Regions from separate parts of the Homo sapiens genome. Here region 2 is linked to region 1. A link means that fine-mapping ties the variant in region 1 to the expression of a gene that starts in the linked region. Tissue or cell type: adrenal gland. Region 1 holds a variant in brackets; the other region holds the start of a gene. All regions are shown on one strand. Distances are from middle to middle.

What was found. PIP is the estimated chance that this variant, and not a neighbour inherited with it, causes the effect.
Region 2: TMLHE starts here. The variant in region 1 is fine-mapped to the expression of TMLHE in adrenal gland (GTEx, PIP 0.96).

The regions. Positions count from the first base shown.
Region 1 is chrX:155,106,193-155,111,192 of GRCh38, forward strand. The region is part of intron 7 of BRCC3 (BRCA1/BRCA2-containing complex subunit 3); the gene reads left to right. Among named protein-coding and RNA genes, the nearest start is that of BRCC3, 37 kb to the left of the region's middle. The variant C/T (reference allele first, on the strand shown) is at 3,046.
Region 2 is chrX:155,610,300-155,615,413 of GRCh38, forward strand. It overlaps TMLHE (trimethyllysine hydroxylase, epsilon), which reads right to left and starts at 2,653. Exons shown (of 8, transcript NM_018196.4): 1 at 2,493-2,653. SPRY3 (sprouty RTK signaling antagonist 3) reads left to right here and starts at 2,287. Exons shown (of 3, transcript NM_001304990.2): 1 at 2,287-2,348.

The sequences.
Region 1 (5,000 bases):
TTTCTCATATAGGTTTTGTATATGTCATACTGAAATTTATTCTTAAGCATTTAACTTCTTTTTTGCTTTGTTAATGTTTTTTTTCTATTACATCCTCTGTTTTTTGCTTGTATATTTGAAGGCTACTATTTCTGTATGTAAATTTTTATCTTCCTGAATTCTTTTGTTCTTTGAGTTAATTATACCTTTATTTCTCTAGAGCTTTCCAGATAAGTATCACACTCCATCTGCAAATACTTTTACTTATTTCCCAATTCCTAAACCTCTAATTGATTCCTTAAATATAACTGCATTGCCTAATATCTTCTTTAGAACATTAAATAGTAGTGGAAATAGTAGATGATCTTGTTTTGTTTCTGATCCTTATGGAAATTCCTGTAGCATTTCTTCATTAAGAAAGATTCTGTATTCAGGAAAAATCATAAGTGCTATCAGAAATATTCTTTTTTTGTACTGTCTTTATCAGGTTTAGGTATATATATTACACTTGCTTCAGAAGAATTGTTTGGAGTTTTCTTTCACTGTCTAGGCTGTGACAGAAATGTAAGTAGCAGTGAGACAATCAGTTCTTTGACAATTCCTCTATGAAATCAACTAGGCCTTTTTGTGTTTCTCCTCTGGGAATTTATCTGTTTATGCTTTCTTTCTGTAATGGGGTCAATTTTGGTACAGTTTCCTAAGAAATTATTCATTTTTTATGGTTTGCAAATTTATTTACACAGAGATCTCTCTGCCAGATAGTCTGTCATATTTTAAATCTCTTGTATTTCAATAGTTATCTCCCCCTTGTCATTTCATATTTTGTATATTTGTGCTATTTCTTTTTTCCCTTGGTTATGTTAGCCAGTGGTGTGTCAATTTTGTTATTTTTCCTTGAAACACTGATTTTTATTTAGTTATTTTTTTTCTATTCCCAACCTTACTACTTTTTCTTTTATGTTTATTATTTCCTTCCTTATGTTTCATTTTGGTCATTTTGTTGTGCTTATCTTAGCATTTGGAGTTTGGAATTTAATGAGTATATTTTTTGTCTTTCATTATTATTGATATAAATGCTTAAGGCTGTGAATTTTCCACTGATCTTTGCTTTAAATATATCCCATAGATGCTAAGTAGTATTTTTATTTATTTTTTTTTTTAAAAGTTCTTTAATTTTAGCACTCACCCATTTTACTTCCTTTCAATTTGGTATCATGGTGTAGCTATTCTAAAATGATCCTGCTCCCTAATGCCCTCAGAATAAAGCCCCAAACCTGCAGCCCTTCATGGTTTGCTTATTTCTCCAGCCATGTTCTCTCTCTGTCATATGCTCACTCTGCCTACAGTTTCCTTTTTCCTTATACCACCTGGCCAATGTCTAGTCATTTTTGAAGATGAAGATCAAATTTAGGAATCCTTCTCTGATAATTCTCAACCCCCAATACCATCCCAGTTAAGCATTCCTCCTGGAAACTTAATAAAATCATATACTTCCTTTTTGTAATACTTATAACATTATATTTTAATATTTTGTTTTTCCACTAACATTGTAAGATCCTTGAAAGAAGGTATGCTTTTTTATTACTGTTCCCATGGTGTTCAGTAAATATTTGTTTAGTGTCCCTTCAGCTGTAGATTTCAAAACTACTATTTTAATGCATACATTCTGACCTGTGAGCTCTAGCATACTCTAGAGCTTCTTTGTCATAAACTTAGTTTGGTTGGTTGGTCTTAGCTTTTCAATTGAAGTGTAACATACAGAAAAGTACACAAATTACAAGTGTCCAGCTCAATCAATTTTCACAAAATGAAAACACCTATGCAACCACAACCCAGATCAGCTCCATGAATTTTTACAAGGTGAACGCCTGTGAAACTGTACTACATATCAAGAAATAGAACCTTACCAGCCCTCCAGAAGCCTCCTTTGTGACTCCTCTCAATTGTTATGCCCTTGTTTTTTTCCCAAAGGTAACCATTATCCTAATCTCTAACAACACAGATTAATTTTGTCTGTTTTTGAATTTTATATAAATGGGAAAATACGGTAAGTACAACTTTGTGTATGGCTTCTTTCACTCTGTTATGGTAGTTCTTTTTTATTGCTGTGTAATATTTCATTGTTGGAAATTACCACAATTTACTTATATGTTCTATTGTTAGGCATTTGGGTTGTTTCCAATTTGGGGCTCTTATGAATAAAGCTGCTATGAAAATAATCCTTACATAAGCCTCTTTTTGCCCATGTGAATGCATATCTTTTCAGTATGTACACAGAAGTGGAATTGCTGGGTTATCACTTTAGTAGAATAGTTTCCAAATTCACATCCTTGCCAACAGTGTATGAAGGTTTTCACAGCTTAACAGCTTCACTGACAATTAGTATTTTCTGACTTTTTCATTTTTTGCAGTTCTGGTGAGTGTGCAGTAGTATCTTATTGTGGTTTTAATTTGGATTTCCCCAGTGACTAATTAGGTTGAACACCTTTTCAAATGTTTATAGGCTTTTTGGATATCCCCTCATGTATAAGTCATATTCATTTTTCTTTAACTTTCTTAGTACTTCAAAAGAATTCCAGTATGTTCTGGATACAAGCTGTCAGCTATACCTATTCCAAGTATCTACTCTCTCACCCTGACCTGGTTTTCACTATCTTAATGGTATCATTTGATGAGCCTAAGTTGTTTATTTAATATAATAGTCCAAATTATCTTTTTATCTTTTCGATCTAGTGCTTTTTAGTGTCCTACACTATTTAAGACATCTTTCCCTATCTGGAAGAGATGCTTTATTATTTCACCATTCGTGCTTAAATCTACAATCTACTTAGTGTTAACTTTAGGATATGATGTGGGATGTGAGTTGACATTCCCTTTTTCCCACGTGTGTATCCAATTGACCTGGCACCATTTATTGCTGCCTTGCCACTTTGCCTTAAATCAGTCGTCCCTATATATATGATTATGTTTCTGGACTCTAGGCGAATTCTGTTTTGTCTATGTGTCTATCCTTGTGTCAGTAACACACTTAGTTGCTGTAGCTTTATAATAAGTCTTGATGATATG[C/T]GGTAACATTAGTTCTCCCCTTTGTTGTTATTCTTCAAGACTGTCTTGGCTATTCTTCGCCCTTTGTAGCCCCATATAAATTTTAAAATCGGTTTGTTGATTTCCACAAGAAAACTTGCTGAAACATGTCAGCTGAAATTTGACTGGGATAGAATTGAATCCATTCATCAATTTGATGTATCCCTCCATTTATTTAGATTTTAATTTCTCTATCTTTTGTATTTTTCTGTGAAACATCTGAAAAGATTGCACACATCTTTCATTTAAATTATTCTTGGGAATTTGGTGTTTTATGTTATTGTAATTGGTATCTTTTCATAATTTTCCAGTTGGTACCGGTTATTTAGATAGCAAATTGATATATGTATATTGGCTTTATATCCAGCAGCCTTATGGATATAAATGTACTTATTAATCCTAATGATTTATCTGCAGATTTTATTTCCTTGGGATTTTCTATGTAAACAGTCATGTCTTCCATAAACAAGGGCAATTTAATTTCACCCTTTCCAATCTTTACACCTTTTTATTTCTCTTTCATGCCTTATTATACTGTCTCAGTCTTCCAGTAAAATTTATGAATAAAATGTAAAAGAGAATGCTTTAAAATTTCCCAATTATCTCTGGTGTTTAATTTAGCTTTTCTGTAGTTAGCCTCTATCATATTAAGGAAGTTCCCTTGTATTTCTAGTATTCTAAGCCTCTTTTTTATGATTGAATGTTGAATTTTATCAAATGCTCCTTCTGCATTTATTAAGATAATCATATGATTATTTGCCTTAATGTGGTAAGTCGCATGAACTGATTTCTGAATCTTAACCCAGCTTTGCATTCCTTAGTCACTGTATATTATCTCTTTAGTGTATTCACTAGGCTAATCTTTTTAGGAATTATATATCTTTTTCATAAATAAGATTGATCCATAATTTTCTTTTCTTTAAACACCTTTGCTAGATTTTGATATCATGGTTTTGCTGGCTGCATAGTACAAAGTAGAAAATGTTCCCATATCTCGATTTTCTGAAATGGTTTGTGTAAGTTTGGGTTTTTTCTTTAAATGTTTGATAGAATGTAACAGATTAGCAATGTCAGTGTGGAGTTTTCTTTGTGTAAAGTTTTAAATTATAGGTTCAGTTTCTTTAAAATATGTAGGATTATTCTGATTTTCTGTATCGTTTTAGTTTTGGCAAGTTGTGCTTTTCTAGGAATTTATCCTAGAACTTTAGTTTACATTGTTCACAATATCTTCTTATTATTCTTTTAAAGTTTGTAGGATCCGAAGTGATTTCTCTTTTTTCATTCCTTACATTAGTAATTTTTGTGTTCTCTGTTTTTACCTTGATCAGTCTTGGTGGGGGTTTATTAATGATATCAGTCTTTTCAAAAGAGCCATAAATGTCCCTTTAAGCACTGCTTTGGGTACATCCATAATTTTTATTTACTATCCTTCAGTTCAAAGTATTTCCCTTGTGATATTATTACCCTTGTGATTTACTTTGATGTAGGTGTTATTTAGAAATATTTCATAAGATGAAATCAACACATGCTGCCCCTATATCTCACTGAACTCAACTATATACTCTGGAAAGAATGCCAAGCCTAGCTATTTGTGAACTCTGGAATGTAAATAACAGGCAGATTGGAGAAGGGCCCCAAAACTCAAAATACCACAGAAGTGGGGATATAAACAAGATCCAAAGTCTCATAACTTAATATCCAAAATAACCAGGACATAAACCAAAGTTATTTAACATATTAAGAACCACAGAAATCTCATCTTGTATGGGAGAAGATAATCAACAGATACAAAAGGCAAGATGACACTTATGTTGGAAATATCTGACAAGACTTTAAAAGCTGCCATTATGAAAATGCTCAAGCTATCAGTCACAAAAATGTTGCAACAAATATTTAAAAAGAAAAAGTATCATATAAGAAATAGAAGATAAAAAGAA
Region 2 (5,114 bases), 500 kb after region 1:
AGAAAGTAGATTAGTGGTTGTCTGATGCTGGGAGTAGTAATGAAGACTGACTGCAGATGGGCAAGGAAGATGTCACTGACGTGATGCAAATGTTTTAAAATTAGATTGTAGTGATGGTTGCACCACCCAATAAATTTATAAAATCACTTTAAATATGCAAATTTTATGGCATGTAAATTATCCTAAATACAATATTTAAACACTGTGAGCATCAAGAAAAAAAGAGAACTTTCATCTCCTTACTTTGACAATTTATTAGGGATCATACAGAGGTCATTAGGCTGTTTGTTGTTGTTGCTGTGGTGGTGGTGGGTTGTGGTTTTCCCATGAGAGTCGAGGGTCATGCAACCATTTGGTCTTTTAAAATAAAAATTTTTAAATCAATTAAAAAAGAATATTGCTGGCTTGAAATTTGGAGTAGTCATGGGACAAAGAGAAGTGGATGGATTTTTTAAAATATTCAGGATGTAGAAGTGACAAGATTTTGTAGCAGTTAGATATAGGGAGTGGGGAAAGGTGAGGAGGCCTCAGACTGAGTATGCTTAAAGTTGAATTCCTGTTGTCCTCCCGAACTGGCTGTCCTGTGCTGCCAATCTCAGTGAATGGATCAGCATCCTGGCACAGAGTTGACATTCATTGATTGCCTTTGGAGTGAATGAACAGAGTATGATGAATAGAGTGAAAATATAGCTAAACAAGGCAGACACCAGGTCCTGCCAAATAGCCAATGCAAAACTCACCCTTCAGGTTGGCTCAGCAGATATCCAGCATAATTTTTTTCTCACCTTTCAAACCATTTGGGAAATCATGAGGTATTTTCCTCATCCAGAAGAACACTCACCTACATATCAGCCACTCCTTCCCTAGAACCTACAGGTATGGAGCAGGCTGGGTTTTTTCAAGAGCCTCTTATCCTGTAAATCTTTACACAGGGCAATGGCAGGTGCATGTACAGCCCATATGAGCCCAGGGGATGCTTGGTATTATAGAAAGGGGATCACAGTGGTGCCCAACTGATGGATCCGTGTTCAGTTTGCAGGAAGAGACTCTTCCCACCAAAGAGGTTTGTTAATCCTGGGGTCCCCCTCCCAGCCCCTGGAGGCATCAGATACAGCTGTCAGAAACATTGTAAACACCCAGTGATCCACTTGGCTGGTTTTACTGTTGTTCCCAGGGTTGACAAGCAGAAATACAGAACAAATGGTGGTTCCTGAAACAGAGGCCAAAACAAGGAAGTGATCTGTTCCAGTCCAAGCTTCCAAGAAATAAAGAACTAGGTGGGGCACACTAAACAAGCCCCCAGACTCAACCACCCCAGTAAACATTCCCTTCATCACACTGGTTATGAGATAAAGTATAAGTTTTTTAAGCCTTATTATAAATAACCTTACTTAACGTCTTCTGGTTGTTGTGAAAATTATAGTATTTTGCAAAATATATGTTCACCATTATCATTACCACCAGTTCCTTAATGAGGAGAAACCAGAAGTTGACACCAAAATGTTGATCCATAATGTTTATAGTCCTTCTTTGTCTTTATAGTTAATGTAAAATAAACTGTATGTAATTTTTACTACAGTGTGTCCTGAAAGGGCAAACCAAGCTACAAGCAACTCTAAAAGACTACTACTGTATGGGAGTGGATTATGAAAGTGTTTCTTAAATATGAGAGCTCAAGTTTTTCTTTCAGCGACTGAGTTAAAGCACGCAACTCATTTATCATGAGACTTTTGCTAGGCAGTGTACTATGTCCACTCAACACACATCATTTTAGGCAATCATCTGGTTAAAACGTTTAATAGTATGGCATTCACAAACCCATTCTTCAGAGTTGACATTCAATTAATGGTTTGAATGTCGTTTCCAGGGCAGTCAGGAGTATTTAAAGGCTTTTCCATTGTTTTCGGAAGAGAAAGAAAACTTCCTAGCCTAACTTACTTACCCAGAGCCTTGCTCCAGAGGGGGCAGACAAAGGGTAAAATCTGGGCAGAGAACATTAGTGGATATGAGAACGAAAGAAAGTGCTGCAAGATCTTGCAGACAGCTGAGTTCCACCTTCCACTCTACTGCCGAACAAAGTGAGGCAGGAAGAGGGTAGGGACTCGCTGAAAGCTAAACACCAAGTCAGTGACAGATCCAGGGCTGTAAAGTCCGACCGAGATTGAAACAATGTACACTGGGCGTCAGTCCCAACGCGAGCTTGCTCCAGCTCTTCCAGCTCTTCCTGAGCGCTAGGCCCATCCGGCCTCACGCTGATCTCCGGGCAGACTCTGTCGCGCAACTGGCACAGATCGTGACGACAACCCTGCGGCAAGGCAGGAGTGGCCTTCCTCTCCGCCAGGGTTAAGGTGAGTACCACCGCCCTTGGGCCCAGCAGCCCGGGTGAGAGCCTCCGCCGCCCACTGCGACAGGCCTGAAAGCGAGCGCCTGGGTAAACCCACCCGTAGCACCCATGGGGACACCCCTTCCCTGACCCACGGGACGGAACCCACCTGTGCTGGAGGTCGTGACTGCTAACTCCGCAGAGTGGGCAGAATTCCAAGCAAGGAGAGTCTCGGGAGGCAGCCTTTCACCCGCCTTTTGCCTTTTCACCCCCAAAACTGTCGGCCCCACGCTCCCCTCCCCCAGCCCGCTCGGGCCCAGCGGAGAGCCTGTAGGCCCCGCCCCACTCCTTCCGGCCGTGCAGGGTGGGTGCCTCTGGCGCCCGGGACTTCGCCCGGTGCTAGGGCGTCAGTCTCCCATTCGGAAGGACTGGGCCGGGGCACTCTATTCAATCGCCTTTAGTGAACATACTTGAAGCTATAGGTGCAGGGATGAGAAAAAACAGGCCCATAAAGCTATAAAACCTGGGTCCCCTGCCTGCCATTTCAGTGCTCCTCCCGAGTCCTCCCACTACGCTTCTATTTATGGTAGTTTATCCAGGTTTACTAGAAGTAAAATTCTACTACCTTTCCACCATTTTCTTGAGTTTATGGAAGTCATATACCGCTCATTACTCCCATCGATTCAGCTGAGCATCTTGAACCCAGGGTCCAGATACAGTGCTACATACAGTGAGCACTAGAAGGGAATACCCATTAGGAATGAACACCTTATGCAGGTAAAAATTTAAGAACGATACATATTACAAAGAAGGACCAAAAAGTATACTGAAATAGTATATGCAATGGAAATCCAAGGCAGATTTAAAAAATGAGAGTAAGAACAACAAAAAAAATCAAATGCATATATACTGAAAATGGGAAATTGTGCAGTATTATATTTATTCGAGATTAAAAGTGTTAATCTAATGTCAAAAAAGCAATAAAGGAATTGGTTTGTAGAAGTCAGGATCAACAAAAGAAGAAAAAGCCTCCACATCTTTGCCCTGGAATTCCTTCTGCCATGAATGCTCTTACCCGGCACTTGTTTATTTGGAAAACGGCTACTCGTTATTTTTGACTCAATTTAGATAGCACCTCCTCTGTGAAGCCTTCCCTGTCTTTCCCAGATAAGTTTGTATATTTTTTTTCCCTAGGTCCAGTATGCCCAATGGATCTCGTACAGGCCTCAAGAGTACCACTTACTCTAGATTATAATTTCTCTTTCTGCATGTCTTTGTCCTCTAATGAATAAGTAGCTTCTTGAGAGCAGAAAACTTGTGTTTTTCATATTTGTTCTCCAAGCACAGAGTCTAAAATGTCTATATATTTAATAAATATTTGTTAAAAAATTTCTAGAACCAGTGTGTAAACAAAAGGACATATCCAGAGTGTGAATGTAACATAAAGAGGAAAAACTAAGTACAATGAGAATCTAGATTTAGTCTGGCTGGTATTCATTCATGCAATAAACATTAATGAGTGCCTACTGTATGCCAGGCACTGTACTAAGATCTGGGTGTAAAATGATAAACAAAGCCCAGATATAGTCCATGCCCTTATGCCCTTATGTTTAAAGAACAAATTGGAGTTGGCCAGGCAAATGGGAAAACAAAAAAAGTTTTGGGCAGAAAGAACAGCATGATCCAATGTCCTGTAACAGGAAGATCATAACTGTAGCAATTAGAGTGAATGAGCTCACTTAAAGCTAAGCTGAAATCAACACAAAGTACTCAGAAAAGGCAACAGGTTGATAGACAATACCTGTTTGTTTGAGTCAGTAAAAGAAGCAAGTTTCCTTAATAATAGTAACCAACATTTATAAAATGTGCACTATATGCTAAACACTGGGCTAAGTGTTTGTTTTATATCAAACACTTAAGGTAGATGATATTATTTCTACTTTAAGGATAAGGCAACTGAGGCACAGATAGGTTAAGCAATTTTCACCAGGATCACATGGCAGATAAATTTCAGAGCTGAGATTCAAACCTAGGTAATTTGGCTCCAGACTCTAGGGAGCCTGGATATTTTACTTTTAATAAAATATAAATTTTACTTGTAATAAAATAAAAGTCAGATATTTTACTGTTTCCTCTCTCTGTGTGTGTGTGTGTAGCAGGTCACATGGTGTATGGCACAGAGTGGAACTTCTTAATATTTTTGGAATGAATGAATAGCTGAATAAAAGCAATAGGTACAAATGTGCTAGAAAACAAAATAGAAAAAAACAATAGTATCTGGGTCTTTTTATGTTCCCGCCACACCAGCTGTTCCTAGAACACACCAAACTTGTTCTTGTTCTGCTTCCAAAATATAATCTGCTCATGCATTTGTCCCTCACTGTACTGCTAACATTCCGGACCAGAGTTTGGCTTTTTTTTTTTATCTGTGAAGGGTCAGCTGGTAAATATTTTAGGCTTTTTGAGTCACATACAGTCTTTGTCTCCAGGTATTAAATTCTGCTTTCATAGAGTGAAAGAATTCACAGACAATACATAAATGAATGCGTGTAGGTATGTTCCAATAAAAGTTTATTTACAAAAACAGGCAAGAGGCAGGATTTGCCCTGTGGGCAATAATTTTTAGACTCTTGCTCTAGGCCAAATTATCACCATCTCTTGCATGGACTACTGTATTAAATGATGTCTGAGAGCCATCATCTTTGACTAACATCTACACCTTTGTTTTATCAGCCTCTCAGTGAAGCTTTAGTGATCTCTAATCATATTCATAACCTTGAGTTCTTGAAAG